Linked DNA regions of Homo sapiens. The protein of the gene in region 1 purifies or fractionates together with the protein of each later gene. This does not show direct contact. Each region holds a gene or a part of one and is shown in the gene's direction. Other genes may lie near its edges. The genes, in order: LRRC57, MACIR and SUGT1.

Evidence for each region.
Region 2: the proteins of LRRC57 (region 1) and MACIR purify together in Homo sapiens (co-immunoprecipitation; 3 studies listed by BioGRID and IntAct, with this or other methods). This does not show direct contact.
Region 3: the proteins of LRRC57 (region 1) and SUGT1 purify together in Homo sapiens (co-immunoprecipitation; 3 studies listed by BioGRID and IntAct, with this or other methods). This does not show direct contact.

What each region holds. Positions count from the first base shown.
Region 1 is NC_000015.10:42,544,853-42,555,376, reverse strand, and holds the start of LRRC57 (leucine-rich repeat-containing protein 57), read left to right. Parts: upstream 1-6,583; 5' UTR 6,584-6,684; intron 6,685-6,920; 5' UTR 6,921-6,942; coding exon 6,943-7,026; intron 7,027-7,132; coding exon 7,133-7,271; intron 7,272-7,847; coding exon 7,848-8,116; intron 8,117-10,114; coding exon 10,115-10,300; intron 10,301-10,524. Other genes in the region: HAUS2 (HAUS augmin-like complex subunit 2), read right to left, coding at 6,412-6,504.
Region 2 is NC_000005.10:103,261,221-103,271,457, forward strand, and holds part of MACIR (macrophage immunometabolism regulator), read left to right. Parts: intron 1-2,673; exon of another isoform or gene 2,674-2,786; intron 2,787-4,687; 5' UTR 4,688-4,777; intron 4,778-10,237. UniProt on the Homo sapiens protein: Regulates the macrophage function, by enhancing the resolution of inflammation and wound repair functions mediated by M2 macrophages. The regulation of macrophage function is, due at least in part, to its ability to inhibit glycolysis.
Region 3 is NC_000013.11:52,646,861-52,657,571, forward strand, and holds the start of SUGT1 (protein SGT1 homolog), read left to right. Parts: upstream 1-5,975; 5' UTR 5,976-6,060; coding exon 6,061-6,098; intron 6,099-6,185; coding exon 6,186-6,243; intron 6,244-6,290; exon of another isoform or gene 6,291-6,376; intron 6,377-10,671; coding exon 10,672-10,711. UniProt on the Homo sapiens protein: May play a role in ubiquitination and subsequent proteasomal degradation of target proteins.

The sequences.
Region 1 (10,524 bases):
AGGAGAACTGCTTGAGCCCAGGAGTTTGAGACCAGCCTGCACAACACAGGGAGACCCTGTCTCTACAAAAAATTAAAAAAATTAGCCAGGCAGCCGGGCGCCGTGGCTCACGGCTGTAATCCCAGCACTTTGGGAGGCCGAGGTGGGCAGATCACGAGGTCAGGAGATCGAGACCATCCTGGCCAACATGGTGAAACCCCATCTCTACTAATAATACAAAAATTAGCTGGGTGTGGTGGCGTGCCTGTAGTCCCAGCTACTCGGGAGGCTGTGACAGGAGAATCGCTTGAACCCAGGAGGCGAAGGTTGCAGTGAGCAGAGATCACGCCATTGCACTCCAGCCTGATGACAGAGAGAGACTCTGTCTCAAAAAAAAAAAAAATTAGCCAGGCATGGTGACATGTGCCTATAGTCCCAGCTACTTGGGAGGCTGGGGTGGGAAGATCCCTTGAGCCTGGGAGATTGAGGCTGTAGTGAGCTGTGATCATGCTACTGCAACTCCAGCCTGGGCAACAGAGTGAGACCCTGTCTCAGCGGCGGCGGGGAAGGTGGGGATATTTAACTGGGGCAGTATGAAAAATAAAACTGGCTGGGCGTGGTGGCTCACACCTGTAATCCCAGCACTTTGGGAGGCCGAGGGGGTAGATCACCTGAGATCAGAAGTTGGAGACCAGCCTGGCCAACATGGTGAAACCCTGTCTCTACTAAAAATACAAAAATCAGCCAGGCATGATGACATATGCCTGTAATCCCAGCTACTAGGGAGGCTGAGATGGGAGAATCACTTGAGCCCAGGAGGCTGAGGCTGCAGTAAGCTGTGAGCGCACTACTGCACTCCAGCCTGAACAACACAGAGAGACTCTCTCTTAAAAAAAAAAAAATACACCTACAAAACAAACAAAATAAAAACACTAATGAAGAGGGAGGAGGGAATAGGGAATAGTACAGAGTTTACATCTGGAGTGATAAAGATGTTTTTGAAAATAGTTGCACAATATTGAGTATAGTAAATGCCACTGAAGTGTACATTTTAAGACAGTTAAAATAGTAAATTTTATGTTATATGTATTTTACCACAATAAAAAAAAAAGAAGGAAAACCCTGGTAACTAGCTAACATAAAGAAAAAACACTAGTGGAGAAATAGACTGGAGAGGTTGGATATTTAAACAGGTGGCTGCTACAGTATTCCAGGTAAGGATGAGAATGTGGACTAGGTCAGTAACAGTTAAAAAGGAAAGGAAGAAAAGATGGGAGTTCCTGCAAAGATGGAATTGACAAATCTTAGTTGATATGGTAAGGGATAAAATCCAGTTAATACTCTAAGGATTTTGCTTCAGGTGAGTGGACAGAGTTATGCCATTCACTGAAGTAGATAACACAAGATATTTTACTGATGGCAAAATTGAGGAACAGGAAAGTATTACTCCAACTTCACACTGCCAGTGTGTGCCAAGATGGAAGTGAGAACACATCTAATCCACTGCCCTTCCATCATATCAGCTGACCCTTTTTTCTTTGTTTCTCTCAGGAGGTAAATGAAAGTAAAATATTTTCTACAATTTATCACATTGTAACCAACCTGTTCACTGGTATATCTCCCTCTCTCCATGCTTACACACTAATCTTAGTTGTACATCTGGCAAACTAGTAAACTGTCGGGTTCAACAATAGAGTAATGGTGCTTAGCTAAGAACATGCAAGAGAAACCAGAGGAAAAATAAGAATGTTTAAGAAGCAGATAACAAAAAAGGAGAGAAGAAAGAAAGAGGGTCAGGTGCAGTGGCTCTCACCTGTAATCCCTGCACTTAGGGAGGTGGAGGCTTATTTTCCATAATAAATAGGAAGTACAACTATTTGAGGATTGAGACTTAGTTTAACACATTTAAAAAAAAAAAGAAAAAAGTATCAGGGATTGGGGAATACAGAAAAGTCTTTTCCTTTAGCTATTGTTACTATATATTGCTATTACATGCCCCAAAGGGCAAAAGAACCCTGAAAATGAAAGGATCCTGAGAAAAAGGAGTCTATTCAGGGTATTTCTGTTTATTCCGTGGCTAGGCACAAGAAGAAGCTCAAATCCAGAACCTTTATACTTAATATAAAAATCCTGGCCTGTAATCCCAGCACTTTGGGAGGCCGAGGCAGGTGGATCATGAGGTCAGGAGTTCGAGAACTGCCTGACCAACATGGTGAAACCCCGTCTCTACTAAAAATACAAAAATTAGCCGGGCGTGGTGGTATGTGCCTGTAATCTCAGCTACTTGGGAGGCTGAGGCAGGAGCATTGCTTGAACCCGGGAGGCGGAGGTTGTGGTGAGCTGAGATCGTGCCATTGCACTCCACCCTGGGCAGTAAGAGCGAAACTCCATCTCAAAAAAAAAAAAAAAAAATCCTGGTAACATTATATACCATATATGTATGTATAAACTTGTAATTGGTGGGCACTCTTTCTTCTTTTTCCTATCCCTTCCTTTTCATACTGAATTCTAGCTGAGGGACATTAAAAGGGAGGTAGTATAGCAGAGAATTTAAGAGCAGAGGCTCTCAAATGGGAGAAGAGGTATAGAGGAGAGTAGGACACAAGTTAAGAAAACAGAATTAGTAGATTCTGTGGGTTTTTTGGTAGATCCAGACCCTGATCTTATTAATTGCCAATAAGCAATGATCAAGCTTTGGTCAAGACTCCATGACTCACTCACACTTGCTGGAAAAATATCTAGAATGTAAGGCCACTAAAGCAGTCCCTAGGGGAATAAACTAAAGCAATACCCCATTATCCTACAGATAGCCCTACCTTTCTTTCACCAAATCACTCTCTAACAGATTGAAACAAAACTTCAAACAAGCTATGTTTTCTAGAAGAGTTGTATCAAATCACAATTTTAGGAATCACTCAATTTTTAAAAAATCCTTGCCAGCAGGAACTCAATAGTCTTAATTTTTAATGCACAAAAAATGATGTGCATTAAAGGGATGGGCTGTTTGAAGGGATGACGTGACAAATCATTTTGAAAGAATCAATGCTAAATCCTTCTAATAGGAAAAGGTTTTTGGCTGGGTGTAGTGGCTCATGCCTGTAATCCCGGCACTTTGGGAGGCCGAGGCGGGTGGATCATTTGAGGTCAGGAGTTCGAGACCAGCCTGACCAATATGGTGAAACCCCATCTCTACTAAAAATTAAAAAAATTAGCCGGGCGTGGTGGTGCGCGCCTGTAATCTCAGGTACTCAGGAAGCTGAGGCAGGAGAATTGCTTGAACCAAGGAGGCGGAGGTTGCAGTGAGCCAAGATTGTGCCACTGTACTCCAGCCTGGGCAACAGAGTGAGACTCTGTCTCAGGGAAAAAAACAAAAAAAACAAAAAAAAAGAGACAAAAGTTTTTATGTATAAAGTTTGCTTAAAGTAAAACCAACCTACAAGTCTGTAAATAGCTCCCTCATTGGGACTAGCTGTGTAGTAAGGTTGTCAGAAGTCTTAAGGAGCTATGGAGTGGGATCTTAAGGAGCTATGGAGTGGGACATGTTAACTGTAGGTAAAACCAGTAACTGTCTAATTAATGTTACTTGAGAGACAGTAGACACCCCCAAGACAACCACCACCCCCAAAAAAGAGTTCACCCATCAATGCCTGAAATTCTGTCACCAGTGCCTTACTCCTTTGGTTTAGGCATTTGTATTTCCTACCAATGCTCTTTAGAGGGATACCAAGTACCAAAAGTTGGGGGGTTGTTTTTTTTTGAGACAGGGTCTTACTGTGTCACCCAGGCTGGAGTGCAGTGGCACGATCTTTGCTCACTGCAATCTCCACCTCCAGGGCTCAAGCGATTCTCATGTCTCGGCTTCCCGAGTAGCTGGGATTACAGGCACCTACCACTATACCCGGCTGATTTTTGTATTTGTAGTAGAGACTGGGTTTCACCATGTTGGCCCAGCTGATCTCAAACTCCTGACCTCAGGTGATCCACCCGCCTCGGCCTCCCAAAGTGTTGGGATTACAGGAGTGAACCCTCAAAAATGTTTTCTATTATGAGTTTGCCAAACTATTTTGTGACAGGAGAACTGGACAATACAAGTGAGAGTACTAGGTAACCTGATAAGAAGAAAAAGGCTGGGTTCAGCTCCCAGTACTTTGGGAGGCCGAGACAGGCAGATCACCTGAGATCAGGAGTTTGAGACTACCCTGGCCAAAATGGTGAAACCCCGTCTCTACTGAAAATATGAAAATTAGCAGGTGTGATGGCAGGTGCCTGTAGTCCCAGCTACTCGGGAGCACGAGAATTGATTGAACCCAGGTGGCAGAGGGTACAGTGAGCCAAGATCACACCACTGCACTCCAGCCTGGGCAACAGAGGGAGACTATGTCTCAGAAAAAAAAAAAAAAGAAAAGAAAAGAAAAAGAAAATACAGGAGAGGGCCGGGTGCAGTGGCTCACGCCTGTAATCCCAGCACTTTGGGAGGCAGAGGCAGGCAGATCACGAGGTCAGGAGATCGAGACCATCCTGGCTAACATGGTGAAACCCCATTTCTACTAAAAATACAAAAATTAGCCGGGTGAGGTGGTGAGCACCTGTAGTCCCAGCTACTCATGAGGCTGAGGCAGGAGAATGGCATGAACCCAGGAGGTGGAGCTTGCAGTGAGCCAAGACTGTGCCACTGCACTCCAGCCTGGGCAACAGAGCGAGACTCCGTCTCAAAAAAAAAAGAAAACACAGGAGAGAAGGGAGGAAGGATTACACTGTAGAGTGCTGTGGTCACTCCTGGTAAAGTTAGTCAACTAGGACCACCTGAATCTCCCCATCACCCAGACAATGGGTGTTCAACAAAAGCTTAAAATCTTTTAATACAGTATCACAGCCTCTTATAACAGTTCATCTTGAGAGGGGATACAATGTGTCAAAAGGGAGAGTACTAAGATCTAATTCTCCTTTAACAGTCTAGTGACCATGGGCAAGTTTCTTGGTCTAAGCCTTAGTTTCTTAAATTAAAAAATACTGTAAGGTATTAGAGTCTCTAATGGCTCTTCTGACTATAAAAAGTTATGTATTTTCCGTAAATCTTCCATCATGTTTGTAGTGCTTTTTTTTTTTTTTTTTTCCCTGAGACAGGGTCTCACTCTGTCGCCCAGGCTAAGTGCAGTGGCCCGATCGCATCTCACTGCAACCTCCATCTCTTAAGCTCAAGCCATCTTCCCATCTGAGCCTCCAGGACCCATGTGGTCCGCGGAGTAGTTGGGACTACAGGTGTACGCCACCATGCCGGCTAATATGTGCTGATTTTTACAGATCAGTTTAACTTTTCTGTTTTCTTTTTAGTGAAATTTCTCAACTTCCTCTATATATCAAAATTTATTTCCCCATTTTTCTCAATGCCCTTGATCCCACTTGCCCCATGCCCTCCTGTCACTGCATTCCATTATTTCCTCACATGTTCAATTTCTCCCTCTGTTGGCTCCTTCCTCCGACATGCTCCTCTTGCCCAACCTAAAACTGCCACTCCGTGACTCCTTGGGTTAATGTCTCTTTTCTCTCCTTCTCAAAATTAATCTCTTCCTCCATTCACGTTCCAAGGTCTTATCTTTTTAGCCAATACTTTTTTTTTTTTTTTTTTTTTTTTGCCTTTAAAGATGCCAAGGCCGGGCGCGGTGGCTCACGCCTGTAATCCCAGCACTTTGGGAGGCCGAGGCGGGTGGATCACGAGGTCAGGAGATCGGGACCATCCTGGCTTACAAGGTGAAACCCCGTCTCTACTAAACATACAAAAAAAAATTAGCTGGGTGTGGTGGTGGGCGCCTGTAGTCCCAGCTACTCCAGAGGCTGAGGCAGGAGAATCGCTTGAACCAGGAAGGCGGAGGTTGCAGTGAGCCGAGACCACGCCACTGCACTCCAGCCTGGGCGTTAGAGCGAGACTCTGTCTCATATAAATAAATAAATAAATAATAAAATAAAATAAAAATGTCAAAAAAGAGCTTCTGGCGCTCTTCTCTACCCAGCACCTCCCGCCCCAAATACGATTCAACACTTCCCACAAACGAGGGTTGTTGGAAATGCTTGTTCCGCAAGGGGACAGAACGACCCGTATTTCCCATCCCCGCCCTTACACTACAGTCTAGAGGCAGTATCACTGGATGAAAAAAAGGCTGGTAACAGTCTAATCTCCCACAAACTGGACTGGGACAAATTTACCCTACAGACACTCAAAACACAGTCTACCCTAAACACCATCTACTCAGATCCCCGCTTTCCAAGCATCCACGGCAGAACGTTCGCGGCTGTTGCCTGGAAGGGGCTCTTATTACTCTAGTACAGACCCCAACCAGGACCCTCACCACTCCCACAGCCAGCAGCACCAACTCACAGCCATATTGTTGCCACCTTGGGCACCCCCTTGATGACACCACCGCCACCCCCACGTACCTGATTGACCATCCCCGAAGCTATGAAGTGGCCTAGCACTAGCCCAGCGCCGTTAGGCGCGGACGCCGGGTCCCACGGGTTGGCAGCGGCCATGGCTCGGACGCACCTTCCGCGAAGGCGCCAAGAGTGAGCGGGATCGCAGGGCGAACGCACGGCGCGGCTCGATGACGTCACAGGGCGTTCCCGCCCGGGACTAAGCCGGGGAGCGCATCCCGGCTACTGCGGGTCCTGGGTCTTCACCTGCGGAGCCTTACGGCAGCTGAGCGGTGGGAGGCGAGTCCGGGGCTCCCTGATCTTCCGTAGGCTCCCAGAGGCGCCTGGCCTCCGCAGAGCTGCAAAGGCGGCAGGGCTTGGTGGTCGGGCTGTGTGTTCTTCCGTTTCTTCCTTGTCGCTCTTGGGTCGGGCCCCAGGAGCCAGGGATCGGCGGGAGTTGAGAGCTGGGGCAGGAGCCCCAGCCGGGAGGCCGACCGGGTGGACTGGGCGGTGACAGCAGCGCTTCCTTCCCGCAGGGACCTGAGCCGCGGCGCTAGGATGGGAAACAGTGCGCTCCGCGCTCATGTGGAAACGGCGCAGAAAACTGGTGTCTTTCAGCTTAAGGACCGAGGGCTGACCGAGGTGAGACTGGGAGGGACACGACCAGGGAACTTAAAGGGAGAGGGACGGCGGGGGCGGCGAACTTAGTCGGTGCGGGATTCCCCACGCTGTGAACTCCTTTCTCCAGTTCCCCGCAGACTTGCAGAAGCTGACGAGCAATCTCAGGACCATCGACTTGTCCAACAACAAGATCGAAAGCCTACCGCCTTTGCTGATAGGAAAGTTCACTCTGCTGAAGAGCCTCTCCCTGAACAACAACAAACTGAGTATGGCTCTCGCCAGGGAGGCTTTTGCTAGTGATCAGCTGTTACCAGGGGTGGTTTTCTCTTACAAGCTGATTTTTGTTTTTGTTATGAAACCGTGCAGGAGGGCTCAAGTTGCGAATGCCGGAATCCTTGAAGCCTTCTTTCTACTTCTTGTAATTACATCTAAAATAAGCCTTATAATGATTGGGTGTTATAATGATTGTTACTGGGTTAATTTGGACTTGAAAGAGAAGAACATTTTGGGGATGTAATGTAAACAAAGCTACCTAACTTGGAATGGGGGATGGATGAGAAGGGGAGGATCTTCCAAATATCACAAAATTGCTGTCGGATTGTGCCTTGGGCCCCTTTACAAAAGGAGCCCATTATACACACAAATGCTCTCCGGCATTTTGATGGCACCCTCACCTTCTAAAGACTATGTTGGTAAAATGCAATATCTAAAAATGGCACATGTGGGAGTTTTACATATATTAACAAGAGGCGAAGCAGGCTGCCATATAGTCTTTATAAACTTCATCAAAGTTGTTTTCAGCTCTATCACATTCAGGTTTTAAAAAAATTTTTCTTTGCCAGCTGTTCTGCCTGATGAGATATGCAATCTGAAAAAACTAGAGACGCTAAGCCTAAACAACAATCACCTTAGAGAGCTGCCGTCTACCTTTGGGCAACTCTCTGCCCTCAAGACCCTGAGCCTCTCTGGGAACCAACTGGGAGCATTACCTCCCCAACTTTGTAGCCTACGGCACCTGGATGTGATGGATCTCTCTAAGAACCAGATTCGAAGTATACCTGACTCAGTGGGAGAGCTGCAAGTCATCGAACTCAACCTCAACCAGAATCAGGTCTAGAGCTTTAAGGTTTTTTTTCCTACAGCATATGTGTGGCTTTAAGGTCTCCTGATACCTGTTAACCTCTTGTTTCCTAAACTGCCATCATAGAGCTAAGTATCAGAGGCTAAATGAGAGGTTTCTTCTATAGGCTGAACTAATTTCAAGGCCCAAAGTGCCATGGAATTAGTTGAGACACTGGATGTGTTAGTTGTGTAGGTGTTTTGGGGAGGGTGGGGTAGGTAACAGGGAGAGATCATTTCAAAAGTTAAACTACTGTCTCACAAATCTTGAAGACTTCTTCAGATCCTCCTCAAATATATGCCCCTAACCAGCTAGCCAGGAGCTATGTCAGGGATATAATGTGGAAATGAGGCCTAAACTGAGGTTCTCAGAGTCGGGAGTCAGAGGTAATTCAGTTTTGTTTTTCGTTTTGTGTGGGGTTTTGACATCTTTGTTACAAAGTGTGTCTCCTTTTGCTGAAGAATATTAAGTGATAGGCTTTCTGGAGATAGCCCATTTCACTGTTGTACAGCTTTAATTATAATATTTGAAATTTGTTTCCATTACTTTGGAAGCTTTCAATTAATATTTGTCTGGAAAACCAATCCAAAGATTCTTGTCTAGGCATGAAGGCACAAGTGATGAAATATTAAACACTGTGAGACTGGATGGCCTTTAGTTTTCTAGTGTCTGTATTTCTAGATCTGCATGGTCCATTAAAGTGGCCAGAAGCTGCATGTGGTTATTACTTTTCTAGATTGTAGTGATTTTACATCATGATGAAATTCAGTCTGTCTTTGAGGAATTGGCCTCATGTTTTTTTACCTTAAGTGGATATTCTTGTATGTTATAGAGCTTCTTGGGGGAAAAAAAAAACTGAATCAATTAAGCAGCAAGTATTAGTTGAGGATTTGCTCCACATTCACCTCTGCCAGTACCTTTATTCAGTGGTTCTCTAAGTTTAGTATGCATCAGAATTAACCAGAAAAGCTTGTTTAAAGAGATCACTAGCCCCCTACCCTCAGTGTTTCTGATCCAGTAGGGCTGGGATGAGGTCTGAGAACTTGCATTGCTAGTTATTGAACTTATTAAAGTTCCCATGATTTCTAATAAGTGATGGTCTGAGATGATACTGGGCAGAATCAAATAATTTGGTGACTTTTAGTATTTAAATGGCAAAAGGGGTGAGTCAAAGACAATTGCTTGGTATTGAGCTTGAGGGCCTAAAGGAACAGTAGTGCTATTGAGAATGGACATGCTGAGTTGTCTGTGGTGAATCTTGTAAATGGAAATATCTTACTGAAAGTTGGAAACGTGGGAGCAGAATAGAGGTAAGAGTATAGATACAGATCTTGAGGTCATAACAAAAGTGATGGACTTTAATGAATGAGCTTTCTAGAAGAAGTTTAGAGAGAAGATGACATATGAAGTATTACAGACAGCTACTTGAAAAATGCCCATAAAAACAAGAGAAGTAAGGAAGAATCCAAAAGATAGGAAGAAAAACCAAAAAAGGACAAAAATAAGGGGTTTTAAGGAAGGGATAGATAGTACAGTTAAATGCAGTAGGGACTGAGGACAATGGATCCTTGAATTTGGTAGTAAAGTGGTCAGTATCTATGTACACATAAAACATTGGCAGTAAATGTACCAAAATGTTTATGGTGGTTATTTCTGGGTGGTGGATTCCAGGTAAACTTTTTTCTTTAAACCTGTGATTCTCAAATTTTCTATAATGAACATACAGTGCTTTTATCATCAGAAAATTTTGTTCCCAAAAAGCCATGGGTGACCTTCATAAAAGCATTTTTTTTAAGTGGGGGCGTAGTAACAGAAGCTAGATAACAGAGGCTTCTGGAGTGAGTAGGCAGTGAGAAAATGGAGGTGGTAAAAGAGGGGAAAACTAGAACAAATAGTCAAGTAAAGATTTTTGTTTTGTTTTAATGTACTAAAAGTAACCAGTATAGTGCTTATGCTTTTTCCTGTTATTCTTTTGTGGTTTTTCAATAGATATCTCAGATCTCAGTGAAGATATCTTGCTGTCCACGCCTTAAAATTCTTCGCCTGGAAGAGAATTGTCTTGAGCTCAGCATGCTTCCCCAGAGCATCCTCAGTGATTCCCAGATCTGTCTGCTTGCTGTGGAAGGCAATCTTTTTGAAATAAAGAAACTTCGAGAACTGGAAGGCTATGATAAGGTATGAATTAATGTACTTCTGCATTTCTAGTCACTACCCCAGAGAAGACAATGGTGAAGTAATCCACAGAAATGTTTATAGCTCATGTCAACAGGATTTGTTCTTCCCCATTTTGGAAGTAGATTCAAAGCATTGGCTGAATGGTATTGTACCAAGATGACTTTTTCTCTATAGACAGCTTATTGTAAAGCATCTTTGTCTTCATCTTTGTCTTTTGATATATA
Region 2 (10,237 bases), on another chromosome or scaffold:
GCAAGGTTAATGGTTTGTTTGTAAGGTCAAGGATGGTTTCAGAAAAGTCACACCCTAGTTAACTCTTCTTAAAGAGTATTGATGACTTACTTTTTGCAAGTTGCAAATGGTAAAGTAAGAATATTTGAAAGAAGCCTCTAAGATGAGCATCTAGGTGCAGCTAAACATTTTGTTTTCATTGTTGTGTTGTACTTTGACAGTTAAGCCATTTTATTTCTGCTTAGTGTTCAGTTAGTATTCCTCCAGAGATGTTTTGGTTCATCTTTTACTTGTTTTTAGTGGTCTTTGAGATTAGTGGTTACAAAATATTTTCACTATTTTGAAAGAATTTTTAAAAATTGATGTTTTTTTTCCAAGTGCTTTTCCATTAGTGGTCTCTTCTTAAATAGCCACTCTGAAAATACTACCTGTTTTTCTTTTTCTTTCTTTCTTTCTTTCTTTCTTTCTTTCTTTCTTTCTTTCTTTCTTTCTTTCTTTCTTTCTTCCTTTCTTTCTTTCTTTCTTTCTTTTCTTTCTTGAAAATGTTTTGGTGGGCTTCAGGTTAGGGCCATGAAAAAAATGAAAATAAATGTTTTGATAGCTAGAATTAGAACTCACAGCTTCTACTGTACCAATTTCTCTGCCTAAAATTTGTCCTTTCATAATATAAACTTTAATGATGAATGTGATTTTTATTTACCAATATTTGAAAGGGCTATGTGCTGGTCCTCATATTTATAGTCTTATGATTTGTGATCAATGTTGTTAAATTTTTTCTTACTGCTGTTTTGTTAGTGATCTGTGCTGAAGCTTGAGATTCACGACTTTTTTGTGTGTTTACGAATTTTGTATGGACATAAACATTTCCAAATGGAGCTTTGTATATTTTTGGGAAAGGCACTCCCTTTTTTGGGTTCCTAGTGCCATTCAGGTTTACTGTTATTAGAAGGATTTATTTCCATGTCTGCCCTCCCCTCTGACCCAGTCTCAGGCCATCTCTTTATATGTGCACCAGTGCCTGCATAGTGTGGGGATATATAATAAGACTTAAGAAACATTGTTGAATGACTGAATAAGTGAATATCTAAGTGGGTACACCCGAAGAAAGAACTCAGACCTGTATGGGAATTCACCGTTCAAGCAGAAGGGTGTTTCCCTTTTTAAAAAAGTCATTGCCTTTCCATGTTGCTTTTGAGTAGGATAACAAATGAAACAGCCAAACTGAGACACTTTTGAGAGTTAAAGGGGGTTGCTTTCAATAATTATGCCAGGGTATTGACTATGAATTGAGATATATAGTCACTCTTCTTTTGAAAGGCATTCTTATTTACCTGTGATAATAACTATCACCTGAGAAATTCGATACATTTGGTAGTTAATGTTTGCAAACTTTTCTATTTGTAGAAGCTCCACTTGCAGTGAAATGTTGGGTGTCTTTTGCTTAGTCACCCATGACTTTCTTATCCAGAAGTCTGTGGGCAGCTCTTGGCCACTGCTTGGTTTTTTCCTATTTTTATTGCTTATGGGATAATGTCCCACTGCATTCTGTTTCAGCTTCTTATAACTGGAAGCATTTATTATATCTTGTAGCCTTTGCTCTATTTACTTCAGTCTTTGTTTTTATGCAGCATTTAGTCTATCTTCTAAGAATTTCACATGGATTCCTTTTCCTCTTGCTGACTGTTTTGGAGAGGAAATCTGTTGATATCTTTCCAAGCCTTCAGTGTTTAGAACATTGGCCAAAATCAGTTGCAAGCGTTAGAGAATTATAGATTTTTAAAGTATTCTAAAAATGTGTGTTATTTGAAAGGTACATGTTTTGGGAATTTTTATATTACAATCTTTTAATTGTTATAAGTGGGAGATGGGGGTAGAACCCTTACTGTAATTTTGTAGTAGATTTCTTTATGGGTTATGTCTTAAAGAAAACGTATAATCTTATACTAGTTAGTTTCTGGTCTTGTTCTTTTTATTTATTTTTCCCTCTTTTTCACCATATACCTCCTCCTCCTCCTCCTCCTCCTCCTGCTCTTCCTCCTCCTCCTCCTGCTCTTCCTCCTCCTCCCACAAAGCAGGAAGCAGAGTCAAAATTAGAAAAAGTGAGAATGTAATGGAGCTTCTGCACCTTGGTTTTCTTGTGTTGCTCCCTTGGACATTGTGTTTATATTCTATTTTTGGCTTGGCACTGGCATAATAGGAATAATCAGTTACTACTCTTTGTTTACTATGAAATTACCGATCATTTCCTAGATTTACACATCAGCTCCAGTGCAAGAGTTGGGTAATGTCTTCAAGGCTCCTCTGCTTTCAAATCCAGACTAAAGTTTTAGTTGATTTCTTTCTTTTGATGTTGAAAAAGAAACTCTTTGAAAGTGTAAATATTTTTCTAATGCATTTAAAAGCTTAAAAAGAAGAATATGTCACCAAATACATGAGGCAAATTATATGAAAGTTTGAATGAGATTTAAGACTGTCAAAACTATTCTTTAGGATTAAGACATTCAGATATTTCTAATGTTCCTCCTGCTTGTTTTAAATTGACATTTATAAAAGTATAAATGAAATCTATCCCACTTTGTGATAGATGTAGTCTTGAGAAATAAAGCGGAAATATATAACTGTATTTGATATCCAACCATATAACCAGACGGTATTGGTTGATACCTTTTTTTCTGTCGCATAATTTATGATTTTAGAAAATAGAAGCTCATAGGAGAAAGAGTCCATGATTCAGAAGGATTTTGTATAAGACTTTCCACGATGTGCCACCAAATCTTAATATTTTTCAAGTTGGAAATAACCATGCAGCTAAGTAGTTCCCCCAACCATTTCACAAATGAGGCAATAAAGCTTTTAGATAAAGTGCCTACCCATACACTTAAAATAGATTTTCACTTATAGAAATTACTTGATATACATTTTGCGGGATCATGATTATTGTGTAAAAGGCTATACATGTTGTCTTATCATTGAACAGAGGCCAGAGTGTAAAGTAAATGATCTTTGGAGTCAGACCAATTGGGGTTCCAATTCCTGCTGTGACTCTCATGTAGTATCACTTAAAAGAGTACTTTAAAATAGGGCTACTACTAAAGAGTACTTTAAAAATGGGATAATAATATTTTCTTCATGGAGTAGTTAAGATTAAATGATATAAATTGTATATCACTTTTGACATAAGGAAGATGCTAAAGAAATGTTCGTTTTTAGAACTCCTCTTTCCCATTAAAAATCCATTAAATAAGAAATGCAGATGAATGTTATTAGTATTGGGGAAATTCTTTGGGATAATTATATTAAATAAACATTTTGTCTGTAGGTAACAATTTTTGTTACAATTTACTGTGTGTTAAAACCAGAGGCTTCATTGGTGGGGTAGAATCAAGGCTTACTTTTCAAGATTTTTTGGTTCCCCAATTTGAGAATAGTTGGTGGCAAAATACATGAAAGGGAGTGTTTCTGTTATCTACATCTGAAGAAGTTGCAAAGGCTGATAAACATGCTAGTTTCTTGGAGTGACAGTTCTTGGTGCATTGGCTCCTTCCAGTTTCTCAAGCTAAAGAAGCACATATTAAACTCAGTAATTATCTATTTCCTTTGGATAAAACTCTCCTGTACTGGTAGGGAAAGTAATAAAGTTACAAACTCCTTGCCTTTTTTCTTGCAGTTTGTCTTTTGTTTGATAAGGTATTGTACTGTTGACACTTCTTGGGCTCTGTGCACCTACATAGATAAAATGAATCTACTCGCTTCATTTGACACCCCTCCAACTGCTTCTGTTGTTTAACCCAACAGAAAACCAACAACCAAAGAAACTTTTACAGGTGGAAAAGGACTTTGGAGGGTTTTCCTCGTCTCAGCAAATTAACCCTATTAACTAGGGAGGTAGGAGATAAAGATAGATTCTCTTACACATTAACTTCCCAGGTAAGAGAGGGAAGGCACAGAGGAGATGCTAGAAACCTTAAGTAAGGTGGTAACTATAAAAAAGTGCTTTTTCAGTCACTCTCTTTTTTTGTTGTGTTATCCAAGAGACTTCTAATCATTTGCCTCGCATCAGTCTTATGAAAGATTTACATTGTTGCTGCTTTATGGCTACAATGAGTCGATACCAAAAATTAATTGCATAATAATAGCATCACACGTTGTAAAGAGCTTTGCAGCATGTAAAGCATTCACCTACCTCATTTCATTTGATCCATCTAACAACTGTATTAGGGAGGAAGGGGGGTTATTACGGTCCACATTTTAGAGATTGATATTTATGCAGGGTCAAGAGGCAGAGTTCTTGGCAAGGCCAGAGCTAGGAACTATGGCCTGTGCTTTTGATCCTAGCCTAAGCATTATTTTTTTTCCATAGAGTACTGTGAATCGGTTGAACACATGAATAGGACTAGGATGGTGAAACCAATACTTATTACCTTACTTTTTCTTGTCTCTTTATTTAGCCCAGTTAGGTACTCCTAGTCTCTAGGTAGAATTTAAGTAACAGAGTACAGAGAAATACACATGATAAAATGTTTGAGGATGCATTTAGGTGAACAAACTCAACATCAATTGAATTAATTAATTATTGGGTCCTATATAACCTATACTTGATGTTACTACCTCCTGCTAGTTTTATTCTCTTTTGCAGTTAGAATTGATATCATGTTATAAGTTGTGTTACTTGTTAAATTAAAGGTTTATTTTTGTATTTCATGTTTAGTACCTGGAGTAGAACAGAAAAATTATTATGTCTGTGTTCCCTTGGGACTCATTGGAAATTGTACAGTGACATCTTCTGGGATTTAGTCTGGTAAGTTATATTTTGCTTTTTCCGTTCGTTAACAGTTGTATGAACACAATACCATAATGTGTTTTTTAAAGACTACATAAATAAACAAGTGAATGTGAAATGTCAGTTAATCAAGTGAATGTGAAATGTTGGTGTATTATTGCAAATATGTATACTATAATTACAAATTTTTAATGGTGAGAAATGAACTTATTGTTGCAATATGCAAACATTATTTTATTTGAAATGTTTGGCTAAGTTTTCCTTCCTTTAAATTTCTTCAACGTAAAGATCTTATGAAATAATATTTCAAAGTATAGTAGTTAGAGGTAACTGTTCCAATTTGGGGCAAATTTTAGTAAAAACATTAATCTCCAAACATTGCTGAAATAATTTGCAAAAAATTCTGGTTATATATTATCATACATAAAGAATGAGCCAACAGGTGTCTGAAAGGAGCATTATTTTCACTTAGTCGTACAGCAGTTCACTGAAAATGTGACATTCTTTTTATCACACCCTGAATTTAAACGGTTAAAAATATGCAATGCTGTTTTCTTCCTTTAGTTGTCTTTTTTCAGTGTGTCATCTGTGTATCTTTGCTGACATAGTTGTCCATGTGTCTCGAAGTCTTTGAAGGGAAAAAAGAAATTCATAATGAGCTATGGTAGCTCTTTAGCATCCTTAAGACTATATTAGTGTGACTTCATGCTTTGGTGTGTCATTCTACTTGGCCATTATCTTTGTGCATCCTTGCCTTGAATTATGTAAAGAGATCATAATCCTTAGAGAAAGCGGAGTTTCATAATAAGTGATTTCTAAATTTCTAGTCAGCAGCAGAATGATTCAAAGGAATGGTAGGGAAAAACAAATACTTTAATCTCATTAAGTAGATAAAACCTATTACATTTATGAAAATGCATTTTCGAACATTGGAAAATTGGAAACGTTACTAAAATTTTCAGTTTTGAGGAAAAGAGTAAGAAGTTTGAAAACCATAGTACAAAGTACTTGGAGAGGATATTGAATAAAAAACAATGTGGCCTGGTCACTGACTCAGCTAATAGAAATAAAGCACAAAACTAGAGCAATGGGTAGAAACTACAGGAATGTATGTGTATCTATGTCTATCCATCTATCTCTGTATATACCTATATTTATACAGTTGTCCCTTGGCATCCTTGGGGGATTGGTTCCAGGACTTCCCCCAGGTACCAAAATCTGATGATACGTAAGTCTCTGATACAAAAATGGTATAGTATTTGCCTATAACCTATGCACATCCTCTTGTATACTTTAAATAATCTGTAGATTACTTATAATACCTATTACAATGTAAATGTTACATAAATAGTGGCTGTACTGTATTATTTAGGGAATAATGACAAGAAAACAGTCTATACATATTCAGTGTAGATGTAATTTTTTGCTTTTTCAAATATTTTCTCTCTGTGATTGGTTGAATCCATGGATGCAGAACCCGTGGAGACAGGGTTGACTGTATATATGCATGTACATACAGATATATGTGTAAATAAATCGACATTCTAGCAGAGCTGCACAAGGTGAAATGAGTCATCTTGGGAGGCAGTGAGTTGCCTGTCACTGAAGGTGTTCAAACATACACTGGGAAACTATTAAGATTCCTTTTGATTCCAAAATTATACGGTACAAAAAAATTTAAAATTTGGAGGACCATCTGAAACGTGGAAATATGTGACAAAGAGTTCATTTATTTTTAATGTCAGGTTTATTATAACTTAGTAAAATCCGTCCTTTTAAAGTGTACGGTTTGATGCATTTTGACAAATGTATCCAGTTATGTAATGACCACTACAGTCAACAAATAGAACATTTTCATCACCCCCCAAAATTCCCTTTTTCCCCTTTGTAGTTATCCCCTCTCCCCACCCTAGGCCTTGGCAATTAATGATTGATTCTGGCAAATAGTTTTGCCTTTTCCAGAATGCCACGTAAGTAGAAACATGTAGTATATAGGTGTAATGTCTGCTTCTTTCACTTAATGTTTCCCCAGATTGTTCCACTTCATTGCTGAGTGGTATCCATTGTAGGGATGGACTGCAGTTTGTTTATCTCTTTCCCTGTTGATGGATATTTGGATTGTTTCCAGTTTCGGTGTTTGTGAATGAAGCTGTCATAAATATTCACATTCAGGTGTTTGTATGGACGTGTATTTTCATTTTTCTTGGGTTAGATATCTATGAGTATGGTGGCTGTGTTGTTTAATGAACATTTATTCAATTTTATAAGTAAATGCCAAACTGTTCTCTAACGTAGCTGCACCTGACAAAGGCTTCTAAGTAGCTAAAATAACTACGCCAAAGTGTGTGCAGATGAAGGAGCCCGATTCTCATTCAGCACAGATTTATTTTTATTTTATATGCAGTTTTAACACGTTTGGTTAGCAGATATTTCCAGCCCACAGAGGATTAGGAACAGTAAATTAGAAGGCCTAGGGGTAGGTTGTTAGCAATTATAAGCAGCCAAAAATTATGTTCACCAACATGACTATACAGTAATTACTGATTAAAAACAAAGGAGGGACTTAAAAGAGTGAAACTCTTCTATCTGATAAGTTCTATCTGACAAGTTCCCAAACCTATATGCATATTAGAATCACCTGGGAATCTTTTACAACTTGCAGAACCCAGGCTACACCCCAGATCAGTTAAATCACAAATCTGGGATGGAAAACAGACATCAGCAGTTTTTGAAGCTCCTTGCATGATTCTGGTGTAGACAAGTTTGGGAACCACATGCTAGAAGCACAACATGGACTTGGAGCCAGGGGGCCTGGGTTGTAATTATGGGCATTAACTATCTATGTGGCTCTGGGCAGGACCCTGTCTTGGTGGTTTCAGTGTCTTCTCTATATTTCAAGGTGGATGTTCCAGGTAGGTTATGTCCAAGATGATTCTGGCATTAAAACTATACCACTCTAGCCAGGGGCGGTGGCTCGCACCTGTAATTCTAGCTACTTGGGACATTAAGGAGGGAGGATTGCTTGAGACCAGCCTGGACAACATAGTGAGACCTCATCTCTAAAAGTATAAAAGAAATAATTAACCAGATTTGGTGATGCACACCTATGTCCCAGCTACTTGGGAGGCTGACGTGGGAGGATCGCTTGAGACCAGGAGTTTGAGGCTGCAGTGAGCTATCATTGCCCTACTGCACTCCAGCATGGGTGACAGAGCAAGACCCTGTGTCTAAACAAACAAACAAACAAACAAAAAACACAAAAATAGGTGGCTCTAGATATCATGATATCACTAGACTGGTATTAGCCATGCTTAGGAGACCCTGTTTCCCCAAAAATGGCTCTATAAGAAATGGTTTGATTCAAGTACTTCTTGAAAAGGATTTTCTTAACATGATGACATTTTTATTCTGCATATTTAAAATGGTTATGTTGATATCTGTTTTCTCTTATATGGTATTGCTGTATGTTGCTAAAAAAAACAGTGAAAGCATATGGAGCAGTGTTTTGATTACTGGGAGTGAATTTTTTTTATAATCTTATTTTTAAAAATTCTCAGAATGCAATTTCAAAAAGAATTCTTCGTATAGCAGTTCTGAAATTTATTAGCTATTTTCAGAGCTGGTCTAAGGAGCTAAGGCATCTAGATCATATTTTCAAAATGTTGCTCTTTGTGCCAAATAGATAGGAAGCTTGGCCTCTTGAAGAGTGTTCAAAGCTGTGCAGATTTTATACAGGTCTACTTTCTTGACTGTTCTTCTTGGTGCACGGGGTTCCACTCACGTGTGTTATGGTTTGGACCTGTTTGCTTTAGTCTCAGCCAGAATACTGGTATTGGGGTATTGAATGCTGTACCTAATGCTTTTGAAATGTACACTGTATATATTTTTGTAATATATATAAATGAATGAAATGTTATCTTTCCTTTTTTGAAGGAAAGTTTACATTTAGTTTGTAAATTTCTTTAAAGAGGTATCTAAGTGTTTTAAGTGAGAATAATATCAGGAGATTTGAGGTCAAAGAATGGCAGTCATGTCCCTTTCATTTATCTTTTTCTTCTTGGAAAAATCAAACACATCAAACAAAAGGAAGTACATCATCTCCTTTCTTCTTTTGATAATTCCTGTTTCTAAGCAATAAGAGGAGAAACAGGCACTGTTCTGGTGAGTGTATAGATGATACTCTTTAAAAGTGTTTACATTAATTTTTAGTTATATAAAAGAATATCCATATAAAAACCAGAAACATTATTAATAAGGTTTTGTGGTGCTTGCTATAAAAATCTAAAAAGTACATGTTCTTTGACTCAGCATTTTTACTTCTGGAATTTCCTGCAGAAATATTCATGTGTGCCTATGTGTACTCTTGCATGTTTTCATTGTAGAAAGAAGTAATCACTCACTCTTACATTTGTAAATACGCGGAAAAAGGAAGGATATACCAAAATATTAATAGGGGTTTCCTCAAGATATGTCCGGCATTGGTAGGGGATGAAGAATGATTTTGCCATTTATAGTACATCAATATGAATTATTTGGACTGGAGAGCTTTCAGTTTGCATGCATTGCTTTTATCGGTTTCAAAACAATAACAAGGAAAAACAATCACTTGAGCAGGTTATTGAGGTAAGAAAAAGATAGAAAGTATCTTCTGGAAGGGAAAGGTGGTTATAAAAAATGTTCATGGACTCTAAGACCTCTTTGAGATATCTCTGTGTATGGTTAAAGAAATTAGCAAGTAGGATGGTGCCCCAGGCTTAGAGCCTAGTGAAATAATTTTTGTTTCTAGGAGTGTGTCACTGACTCAGACACCCTATAGCATAGGAGCTGACTGTGGGCAATATCTGGATGTATCTTGGTGTTAAGTCACATTCTCAGCTTTTTGGAACCTTTGCTTTTCTTTCTCTCCATGAGAATTACATTGTACCCTACCTTTACCATATCCCTCCTATCATGAAAAATATGTTTGATAAACTAATTCAGTCTGTAATAGAGAAAAATAAAGGTGTTTTAAGAGAAGACAGCAAAAAAGAGCAATATTAAACTTGGCGGAATGAGTCTAACAATAGAATTTCATGCCTTTGACATCTCAGCTAAAGGTTTGGGGAGTTGGAATTTTTTTTAACAGGCATGCTGCTGATGTATAAATGAACTCTATATATAGGAAAGCTAATGAAGCAATTAATTTTTTGAGTTTCTTAAATGAAATACAGGTATTAGGATACGGTGTTTCTCAAAAAGAATTCTTTCTATACCATTTGTCAAATTTACCACCTGTTTTCAAAGCTGGTCTAAGGAGCCAAGGGCATTTAGGTTATATTTTGAAAGTATTGGTATTTATGCTCCAAATTTAGGTTTGGCCTCTCAGAGAGTATTCAGACCTATGCAGATTCTATAAGGGTTACAGGCTTTTGAACGTGCTTATCCTGGTGCACCAGGTTCTCCTATACATGTGTTGTGATTTGGACCTATTTGCTTTAG
Region 3 (10,711 bases), on another chromosome or scaffold:
TAGAATCTTTTAAATTTTGGTGAAGTCTAATTTACAAATTTCTTCTTTTATGGATCATGCTTTTGGTGTGCTAAGAAATCTTTGTCTAACCCAAGATCACAAAGATTTTCTTTCCTCTAGAAGTTTTATAGGAGTTGTAGCCCCATAATCCATTTTGAGTGAATTGTTGTACATGGTGCAAAGATACACACTGAAACTCACTTTTTGGCACATGTATATCCAGTCTGTTTTAAAGTCTCTCCTTTTCAACTGTTTTTTCTCCACTGAATTACCTTTGGACCTTTGTTAAAAATCAGCTGTCTACATATGGTATGGGTCTATTTATGGATTCTCTGTTCCATTAATCTGTCTATTTTTGTGCCAATACCACAAGGTTGACAGGTCTTGAGATGAAGTAATGTTATCTCTCCAACTTTGTTATTTTTCAAAGCTGATTTGGCTATTGTAAGTCCTTTGCATTTTCATTTGAATTTTTCCCCCATTTGAATTTTAGAATCAGTTTGTCAACTTCTAAAAGGGAAAAGCTCTGGGATTTTTTTTTTTTTTTTTTTTTTTTTTTTTTTTTTTTTTTTTTTTGAGACGGAGTCTTGCTCTGTCGCCCAGGCTGGAGTGCATTGGTGCAGTCTCGGCTCACTGCAAGCTCCTCCTCCCGGGTTCACGCCATTCTCCTGCCTCAGCCTCCCAAGTAGCAGGGACCACAGGTGCCTGCCATGACGCCTGGCTAATTTTCTTGTATTTTTAGTAGACACAGGGTTTGATTGTGTTAGCCAGGATGGTCTCGATCTCCTGACCTTGTGATCCGCCTGCCTCGGCCTCCCAAAGTGCTGGGATTACAGGCGTGAGCCACCGCGCCCAGCCAGCTCTGGGATTTTTAAATGTACTTTATTTCAGAGATGGGGTCTCTGTTGTCTAGGCTGGTCTCCAACTCCTTGCCTCTAAGCGATTCTCCTGCCTCAGCCCCAACAAGAACTGAGATTAGACATGAGCCACCATGCCTGACTAGGGATTTTGATTGGGATCATGTTGAGTCTATAGGTCAATCTTGGAAGAACTGAGATCTCAACAATATTGAGTCTTCTTGACTCATGAATTTGGAGTAGCTCTCCATTTGTTAGTTTTCTTTAATTTCTCTCGGCAATATTGTTGGGTTTTTTTTTTTTTTTGAGACAGAGTCTTGCTCTATTACCCAGGCTGGAGTGCAATGGCGCAATCTCGGCTAACTGCAACCTCCGCCTCCCGGGTTCAAGCAATTCTCCTGCCTCAGCCTCCCAAGTAGCTGGGATTACAAGCACCCGCCACCACGTCCAGCTAATTTGTTTTGTGTTTTTAATAGAGATGGGGTTTCGCCATATTGGCCAGCCTGGACCTCAGGTGATCCACCCGCCTGGGCCTCCCAAAGTGCCAGGATTACAGACGTGAGCCACCACGCCTGGCTGCAATATTTTTTAGTTTTCGGTGCACATCTTGCATATCTTTTGTCAGATTTATTTTTCAGTATTTAATATTTTGATGTTACTATACATGTCATGACTCTTTGCATTTAAAATTTTGATTGTTACTGATTTTGTTTTAAATCTTTTTTCTGTTGAAGTATAAACTTGGTAAAGTGTACAAATCTTTTAAAAATTTTCTCTCTTTTTTTTAAACTTCTCTTTGGGAAAGCTTTATTGTGAAAAAGACACAAATAAGAGATTTTGTTAGATTCAGTTTGAAATTATCAAGTGTAATACACTTAAGGATGGCTTCAATGTTAGACTGGGATGGTTTTCTCTTTTAAATGAAAAGGATCCCTTTCCTAGGAAAATGTTAGGTAACACAGTATAAGTGACTATTTTCACTCTTCAATTTGAAGATCAATTATCCTTCAATAAATGCCCACTTAATCCAGCATGGTTACTCCTCCCCTTCTTTAAATTACCAAAGCTAAGTACATTGGTATATTTAGTTGTGTCATTTGCACATGAAAACTTTTTTTTTTAACTTTTTTTTTTTTTTTGCAATAAGTCTCGCTCTTGTCCTCCAGGCTTGAGTGCAATGGCTCAATCTCGGCTCACTGCAACCTCTGCTTCCCGGATTCAAACGATTCTCCTGCCTCTGCCTCCCAAGTAGCTGGGATTAAGGTGCCTGCCACCATGCCCGGCTAATTTTTGTATTTTTTAGTAGAGATGAGGTTTCACCAAGTTGGCCAGGCTGGTCTCGAACTCCTGACCTCAGGTGATCTGCCCGCCTCGGCCTCCCAAAGCGCTGGGATTACAGGCGTGAGCCACTGTGCCCGGCTGAAAACATTTATTAATAACTTCTTAAGCATTTGTCTGTCCTTCCTCCCAAGATTTCAATAAACTGATGCCAAGAATTTATGGAGAAAATTATAAAAACTTTACTAAAAGACATACGAATAACTGAATGAAACAAGCAATTATGTTCATGGACTGGAAGAGGCAATACAAGGGAAATATATCATTTCTCCTCAAACGAATCTGCAAAATCAAAGTGAACAATTTGTTGTTGTTGTTGAGACTCACACTGTTACGTAGGCTGGAGTGCAGTAACACGATAAGAGTCTCAACCTCCTGGGCTCAAGCGATCCTCCTGCCTCAGCCTCCCAAGTAGCTGAGGCACGCGCCACCATGCTTGGCTAATGTTTTTTATTTATTTATTTTTTGTAGAGACGAGGTCTCACCATCTTGCCCAGGCTGGTCTTGAACTCCTGGGCTCAAGTGATTTTTCTGCCTTGGCTTCCCAAAGTGTTGGGATTACAGGCGTGAGCCACTGCACCCAGCCTGCACAAATCTTGTGCATAACTTGATAAAATTTTATGTTTGAATACACTGCTGTGATTACCAGCCAGATCAAGATATGTAACATTTCCCGCATCCGAGATTTCTTCATGCTCCTGTTCCCCACCCTCCCTGACAACCAGGAGGTTCCCTTATGATACCTCTCATCTAAGTGGAATCAATCATGATGTACTCCGTCTGGCTTTTTTTTTTTTTTACCACAACTTATGTATATAAGCTTCATCCATATCGTTGTGTGTAGTAGTCGTTCATTCCTATTGCTATGTAATATTTTTTTCTCCTATTTAAGGACATTTAGATTATTTCCAGTTTTTGCTACCTTGGGTAATGCTGCAATGAATATTCTTCTACATGATCATAAATAATAAATACTCTTGGGTATATGCCCAGTGGTAGAATTATTGGGTTATGGTCTGTGTATAACTAGCTTTAGTAGATAGTGTCTGATATAGTTTGGATATGTGTCCCCACCCAAATCACATGTCAAATTGCAATCCCCAATGTCGGAGGTGGGGCCTGGTGGGAGGTAACTGGATCATAGGGGTGGGTTTCTCATGAATGGTTAAGTACCACCTCTCTTGGTACTGTCCTTGCAACAGTGAATTCTTGTGAGATCTGGTTGTTTAAAAATGTGTAGCACCTACCCCCACCCTACTTGCTCCTGCCATGTAAGATGGCTGCTCTACCTTTGCCTTGTGCGGTGATTGGAAGCTTCCTGAGGCCTCTGCAAAAGTAGAAACTGCTATGCTTCTCGTACAGTCTGCAAAACCATGAGTGAATTAAACATTTTTTCTTTATAAATTACCTAGTCTCATTTATAGCAATGCAAGAACAGACATACGGTACCACAGTTTTCCAAAATGATTAAACTCTCACCAACAATATATGAAAGATACAGTTGCTACATATCCTTGTCAGTGCTTGGTATTGGAAGTCCTTTTAATTTAAGCCATTCTGGTGGTAGTTTTGGTATCTCATTGATTTCAATGTCCATAATATATAGAACTTCTTTTCATGTTGGGCCCATAGGGCGGTCTTGGAATTCACCCTTTCAGAGGCCATACATATATGTGTATTGGTGCATGGCAGAGGCTGGTGTACACACATTAGTGTATGGCTGAGCCATAACCGGAGCATACCTGAGACTAACCCTATGGTCTAAGAAGAACTTACGTTTGGAGTCCTGGGCTAAGGAATCCAGGAGCAGCCAACCCAGAGATTCACTCCTTATCTATGAAGGACATCCACATCCCTGGCCCGTATCTTACGCTGTACAGATCAAGGCCCTTTGGGGTTAAATGGAGGTTGCTAGAAGGAGAGTGCTAAGTGAAAATGCTATATAGACTACGTGCTTTTTACAAATGGTAGCAGTTCTCCAGGTCAGCCCTCCACCACCGGACCACCCTTGTATGTAAATCCTGAATAAACCTTGTCTCCTTCACTGACTCTGCCTCTCTTCTTACAGTGCCATCCCAACTGGAGTCAGTGGGGTCCAGAAGGACAATTGGCCATTTAGATAACATTTGAAAACTAACCAAGGTAATTCACAGTAACATTAAAAAATACAAATGAACATTTCAATAAAGGCAGAAAAAGCAGTTGATATTCAATGCTTTCCTCCTGATGTTATGACCAAGACAAGGAAGTCCATTATCACTGTTTTTATTCAATAGTGGAAACACTAGCCAGCAACAAAAGGCAAAAATAAATAAAAATAAAAGGTATAAAGGTTACAGAGAAGTTAAACCATCTTTATTCGTGGATTGCAAGATTTTGATCACAGAAATTCCGAAAGAATCTACAGAGTATTACAAATAACAAGGGAACTTAGCAAGATGCTTGCATATAAGGTCAGTATGTTAAAATCAATATTGTTTATTCTTACGAGTAGAATATAAAAAAGTCAAAATGCCATTTAACATTGTATACAAAACACTAAATACTCAAGAATAAATCTAATGAAAGATATATATGATCTCTATACTGCAATCTATCCAAGCACAGCTGCATTAAAATATAGATATATGTGCAATCTACAAAATATTGCCAGGAGAAATTAAAGACCGCTTAAATAAATGGTGGGGGAAGAATGATATTCATGGATTGAAGGACTTGTTGTTAAGATACTAGTTTTCCCAAACAGATCTATAGATTCAATGCGAGCCCAATAAAAAATCCCCCCCCTTTTTAACAAGCTAATTCCAAAATTCACCTAGAAATACAAAGGCCGTAGAATAAGCCAAAACAATCTTGGGAGAATAAGTTACAGGACTTAAAGATTTATTATAAAACTACATTAAATTAACATAGTTTGGTACTGGTATAAAGTTAGACAAAGACTACTCCCTCCCGCTCCTCAATCTGCCCCCATCCCTAGAACGTGCTGGCAGCTTTCTCCATCCGATCTGCAAGGGTTAAAGGGCGCTGAGGAAGGGCTGACCGACTGGGGTGGGAAACAAAGCGGCACTGAGATAACTTCAGGCCACCTTCCTCCCCTCAGTACCTTCGGATGAAAGGTTTCCCTTCTTGGTCTGGGAAGCCCACTAAGAAGAAAGCCTGGGCTGTGGCGTTCTGGGGAAGTGAATAGTACGGCCGCCGGGCGCGTCGCCCCAGGAACCAGAAGGCTTTTTGCCGCTATTAGTGCAGAATGACTTCCGGCAAGTCCCAGTCGTTTAGAATCCCCAGCCCAAAGATCGCGGGGATCCACGCGTCATCCGGGCCTCTGCTCCCGGAAGAGACCACGCAGCCGCTAAAGACGTAATGGAGGCGAAAGGGCTTGGCTAGCTGTGGCAGCCATGATAAAAACTAGGGAAAATGGGAGCTCGAAGTAGCTTCCGTTATTAACAGACATACAAACGCCCCTAACCGCCACACGTTCCTTAGGGATGACAGTACGTTACAAAAGTGCTTCTAAAGTACTACTGAAAGCTCCGTGGGAGTGCCCGCTGGCGTGGGCGCGGTGGAAGGGAGGAAGAACGTGTACGCCCCAGGCCTCCGTAACCATGGCTGCGAGGGGCGGGGACTGGGAGCGCGGGTCCTGGGCCGGGGTGCGGCTGGGAGGAATCGGTCCTCCACTGTCCCAGCCGGCCCCGCGCCGGCGTGTCGCCTCCCGTCCCCCTAGCAGCACGCTGCGTGGCTGCTCGCTGGCTATTTAGGACGGAAGCTCGGTTGGTGTTTCTCCAGAAGTTTCCCCCTTGGGCGGTGGTGGAGGTGGTAACCGTGATAGTAGCAGCTCCGGCGGCAGCAACAGCGACTACGAGGGATGGCGGCGGCTGCAGCAGGAACTGCAACATCCCAGAGGTGCATGTTTTTCTTTCCCTTTGGTATTTATTTTATCCCCCTTTCCTTGGCTAGTGAGCCCTGCTGAAGTCGTTGTTTTCCTGACAGGTTTTTCCAGAGCTTCTCGGATGCCCTAATCGACGAGGACCCCCAGGCGGCGTTAGAGGTGAGAGAGCCCATTTCTGCTTCCTCCACTCTTCTTAGGGGAGCTGGGCCACTTCGGGTCCCCGCTGACCCGCCTTCTCCCCGCACCGCCGGACAGGGACCCAGGCTCTTGTTGATGCTGCGTCTCAGCTCCGGTATTGAGATTCTCCGTCTCTTTTCTCTGTTACACGGTAGCCGCGTTACCCCAGACTCCTGTCTTGCCCTTTCCACTCCCTACAGCTCCTGAGAAAAACCTCCTCTATTTCTTGGGAGCATGGTTGGCATTTGTAGTTTGGCTGAAAGGATTTTTTTTTTAATGACATTTATGATTAGAGAAGTGGACTCTGGGCTCGATGAAGTTAATTTTTTCGTTTGACAATAATTCTTGCCATTCTTACGTAAAAGTGTCGGTATGAAGTCAGTCTACTGGAGCAAAACCCTTTTCCCTCACGTCCCTGAAACTTTCCAGATGTCTTATCACAATTCATTATTCACTCATTTGTATATTCATCAAAATTTTTTTTTGGAGTGGCTGTGTGCAAAGGCGCTGATTGCTGTGGGTTAAAGTCTTGGTTATATACTCAGCTAACCTAGAAATCACTTTTTGTAGGTGTGCAATGAAGGCAAACCATAAAGCTGTAAAGGAATGTAAAAGATCAAGAGTTAAATAATAAGAATTAAAGGAGAACCTAAAGATAAATGATGCTGCGGGTCACAGAATTTAGCCAGGAGTTTTTGTTTGTTTTTGCGTTAAATCACAGAAAAGAGGAAACCTGTTTTGCTGTTACGTTTAACAATTTGAGGCAAGACAGCGTCTTTTCTAGCTATGACTTTTATAAGAAATGTGCCACATGGTACTAGAGCCTCCGTTGAGGAGATCTTTGAGTGGAGATTTGAAGGAACAAGGGAATTAACTTGGAAGCTCTGGGGAAAGAATATTCCAGGCAGGACCAAGAGCCAGTGCAGATCTTGAGGTAGGAATGAAGTTGGCCTGTATGTGAAGCAACAAAAAGGCCCTTTTTATTAGAGGGCCCATTTGATTAAGAGAGGTTGGACAGGAAACTAGGAGCCAGGTCCTATAAGGCCTTTTAGGGTCCAGGTGTGTTTTTTACACCTAAATATATAGACCTTTAGATACTGGGAGTAAGGCTTCTGGGATGAGTTTGGGGATAATGTTACAGGAAGCACTGAGAATTTTTCTCCATAATTTCTTGTATTAGCTAGACAGCTATGACTTTTAATTTACATTTGTTATTGTCGTGTTAGACCTAGTGCTTCCTTTGGGAATCCAGTTTATATAAAAGTTGCTTTTAAACAGTATTAACATAATGAATTTTATTGTCACTTTCCATCTTCTTTTACTTTAAAAATTTTTATGGAGGCATATATGATTTATGTAAATAACACAGATTTTAAGTCTATAGTTTGATGAGTTTTCACATGTTTACACCACCAGATTAAGATACAGAGTATCTCCATTCATAATGCTCCTTAATGCGCCTTCTCAGCCAGTAATTCTTCTTACTGTCCTGCTGACTCCTGCTTTGACCTCCATCACCATCAGTTAGTTTTGTTTGTTCTTGACTCATAAACAGAATCATACAGTAGGTGCTTTATTGAATGTAGACACTCTTTTTGCTTTAATGATTACATAAGTATACATTCATATTGTGTGAAGTAGTAGTTCTTTCGCATTGCTGTGTAATATTCCATTGTATAAATATATGTTGTATAGCCGTAAGTACGGCGCAATTTATTCTAACAGTGGACATCTGGGTTATTTCTAGTTATTAGCTAACAAAAAGCTTCTGTGAATACTCTTGTACATGTATTTTGGTGAACACATGCATTTCTTTTGGTTGTATGTACCTAGGAGAAGAATTGCCTAGGATAGTCATGTGGCTAGTATTAGTACCTTGGTTTTTAATGTATGGCTCTTGGACCAGCATTATCAGCATCACCTGGCAATTCATTAGAAGTGCAGCCGGGCGCGGTGGCTCACGCCTATAGTCCCAGCACTCTGGGAGGCCGAGGCAGGCGGATCACGAGGTCAGGAATTCGAGACCAGCCTGGCCAACATGGTGAAACCCCGTCTCTATTAAAAATACAAAAAATTAGCCGGGCATGGTGGTGGGCAGCCGTAATCAGCTACCTGCGAGGCTGAGGCAGGAGAATCACTTGAACCCTGGAGGTGGAGGTTACAGTGAGCTGAGATCGCGCCATTGCACTCCAGCCCAGGCGACAGTGAGGCCAGGCCATCAAAGGCATTAAATCCCAGCACAGGGTTTTCAGTTTTATCATATGATTATGGAGATCCGTCAAGAATTTGGAGGAAGGAAAATGAAATTTTCTGAATTACAAAACCTACTTTAAAAGCAGAGTAGATAGCGAATTGGAGGAGGCACAAGGGATAGTGGATAGCAGGAAGATGGTAGTGCAGACCGGGTCAAAGATGAATATTTGCATGTAGGGCAGTGATTGAGGGCATGGAGGTGAGTTGTTTTATGTAAAATGCACCGGACTTGGTGACGATTAGAATATAAGGGATGTCTCCTGAGTTTCTGGCTGGGGGAATGTTGTAGGAACTGGTGCCATTCATTTAGATAGCACTTAGGATGATAGCACTTAGAAGATTGCCTTCAGCATGGGGGAATAGGTTTGAGGATAGAAAGTAGTTTTAGATTGTGAATATTTGTATATGAGTTGCCTCTGGGACATTTCAGGTAAAGTTTAGAGAAAACTATATGCTGATGTTGCCCAGGACCACTGTCTAGGCTCAAGATAGACTTGAGTCATCAGCATGCATCAACACATATGTGAAGCCCCCCAGTAGTTAAGGAATCAAAGAATGTTTGTAGAGGGGAAGAAGTCTTAAGTACTGAGCCCAAGGAGAACATTAGTTTTTAAGAGGCAGCAGAATGGTAAGCTGAAAGGCCTGGTTATTATTGTCAAGGGCCACAGAGAGATCAAGTCAGATAGGAATCAGTTGGATTTTATAAGGGGTTATTAGTGACTTTGAGAAGATTAAGACTAGAGAGGCAAATATTTTTGTATTCTATGGCAAAGGAGATGCAGTCAAAGTAGAGACTGGGGAAAAGGCTGAAAAAAGTCTGCAAGAAGAAAAATCAATACTTTTCATTGAGTGATTACTGGATGTCACATACAGATCTAGGCAAGCCCAACACCCTGGAGTCATCTTCAGTTTCTCTTATCCCACATGTTCACCCATTAGCAAGTCTCTCTGCTTCTAATATGTTCCAACTTAATCGTATTTCTTTTCATCACCTCTGTGGCTAACATCCTTTTCTAGCCTAGACTTAATGTAATAGTTTCCTAAGAAGTCTCCGTTTCCAGTCTTGATTTGATAATGTATTTACCATACTGCAGCCAGAATGACATTAAAAAAAAGTAAATTGGACCATGTTCCCCTTACTAACAGTGAACTTTCCATGGCTTTCCATCAAACGTAAGGTCCAAATTCCTTATAACTGCCTGCAAGCTACAAAGTGAGGCCCTTAAAGTAGCATCTTACAGCTTCTTTGCTCTCTTGATTTGAGCCTTACTTTCTGTTGATTGACTGTAACCCCATGTGAGTTGAGGAGCATCTGTATATGTTGCTTTCTGAGAGTCACACTACTAGGTTAAAGCAAAGTCAATGATACATGTGGCTCTTGAAATAATTTTACCATTTAAGAAAACTACCAAATCCCTAGAGTTTGTAGGCAGTTGGCAGAAAATAAAAGTGTTCCTGCACTTGTCTTTGATCTCCCTAATTGTGTAATCTCTTACATCATTATTTTTCCAGCTACCACACCTATATGTTGTGACTGCACAAGTTAAAAAAGTTTCAATCTCTAATGTTAACTCTTGGTAGTTGACATAGCCATCTATTAGATTGTATCTGGGCTTTGAACAGAATATTTAGTTGGGTTTTATTAGAGTTGTGTGCTATTGTTAGAGGCTAGGAGAGGGCCAGGTACACTTGATTGTGTATGTATTGATTGTCTTAACCTCCCTGAGTGCTAGATTTAACTTCTGGTCTTTTTTTATTGCACAGCTTAACATTTTCTAGGAATCTCAAATTCTATATGGTGTTTGAATCTTCTTCAAATTAGTAGGAGGAAATCTGTAATGGTCAATGTGTAACAATTAAACTCTTCAGAATATATGAGCTGATAATAATGATCATTTATTAAGTTCTATAGACCAGGAACTAAAAGCTTTACGGTACAGAGATGCTACATTAGATTGCCTACTTTTGGGAGGAGGGGCAAGAGAAGTGGGGGAGATATTGATCCTTTTATAAGGAAAAACTCCAATATTATATCCGTGTTATCTTTCCTCCAAATAGCTTCTGACAATAAGTTACTTGATTAAAAATTATGTTTTAATTAGAATTTGATGGCTTCTTACAAACTTTTACTGACGCTCCACATGTTTGTTTTTGTAGGAGCTGACTAAGGCTTTGGAACAGAAACCAGATGATGCAC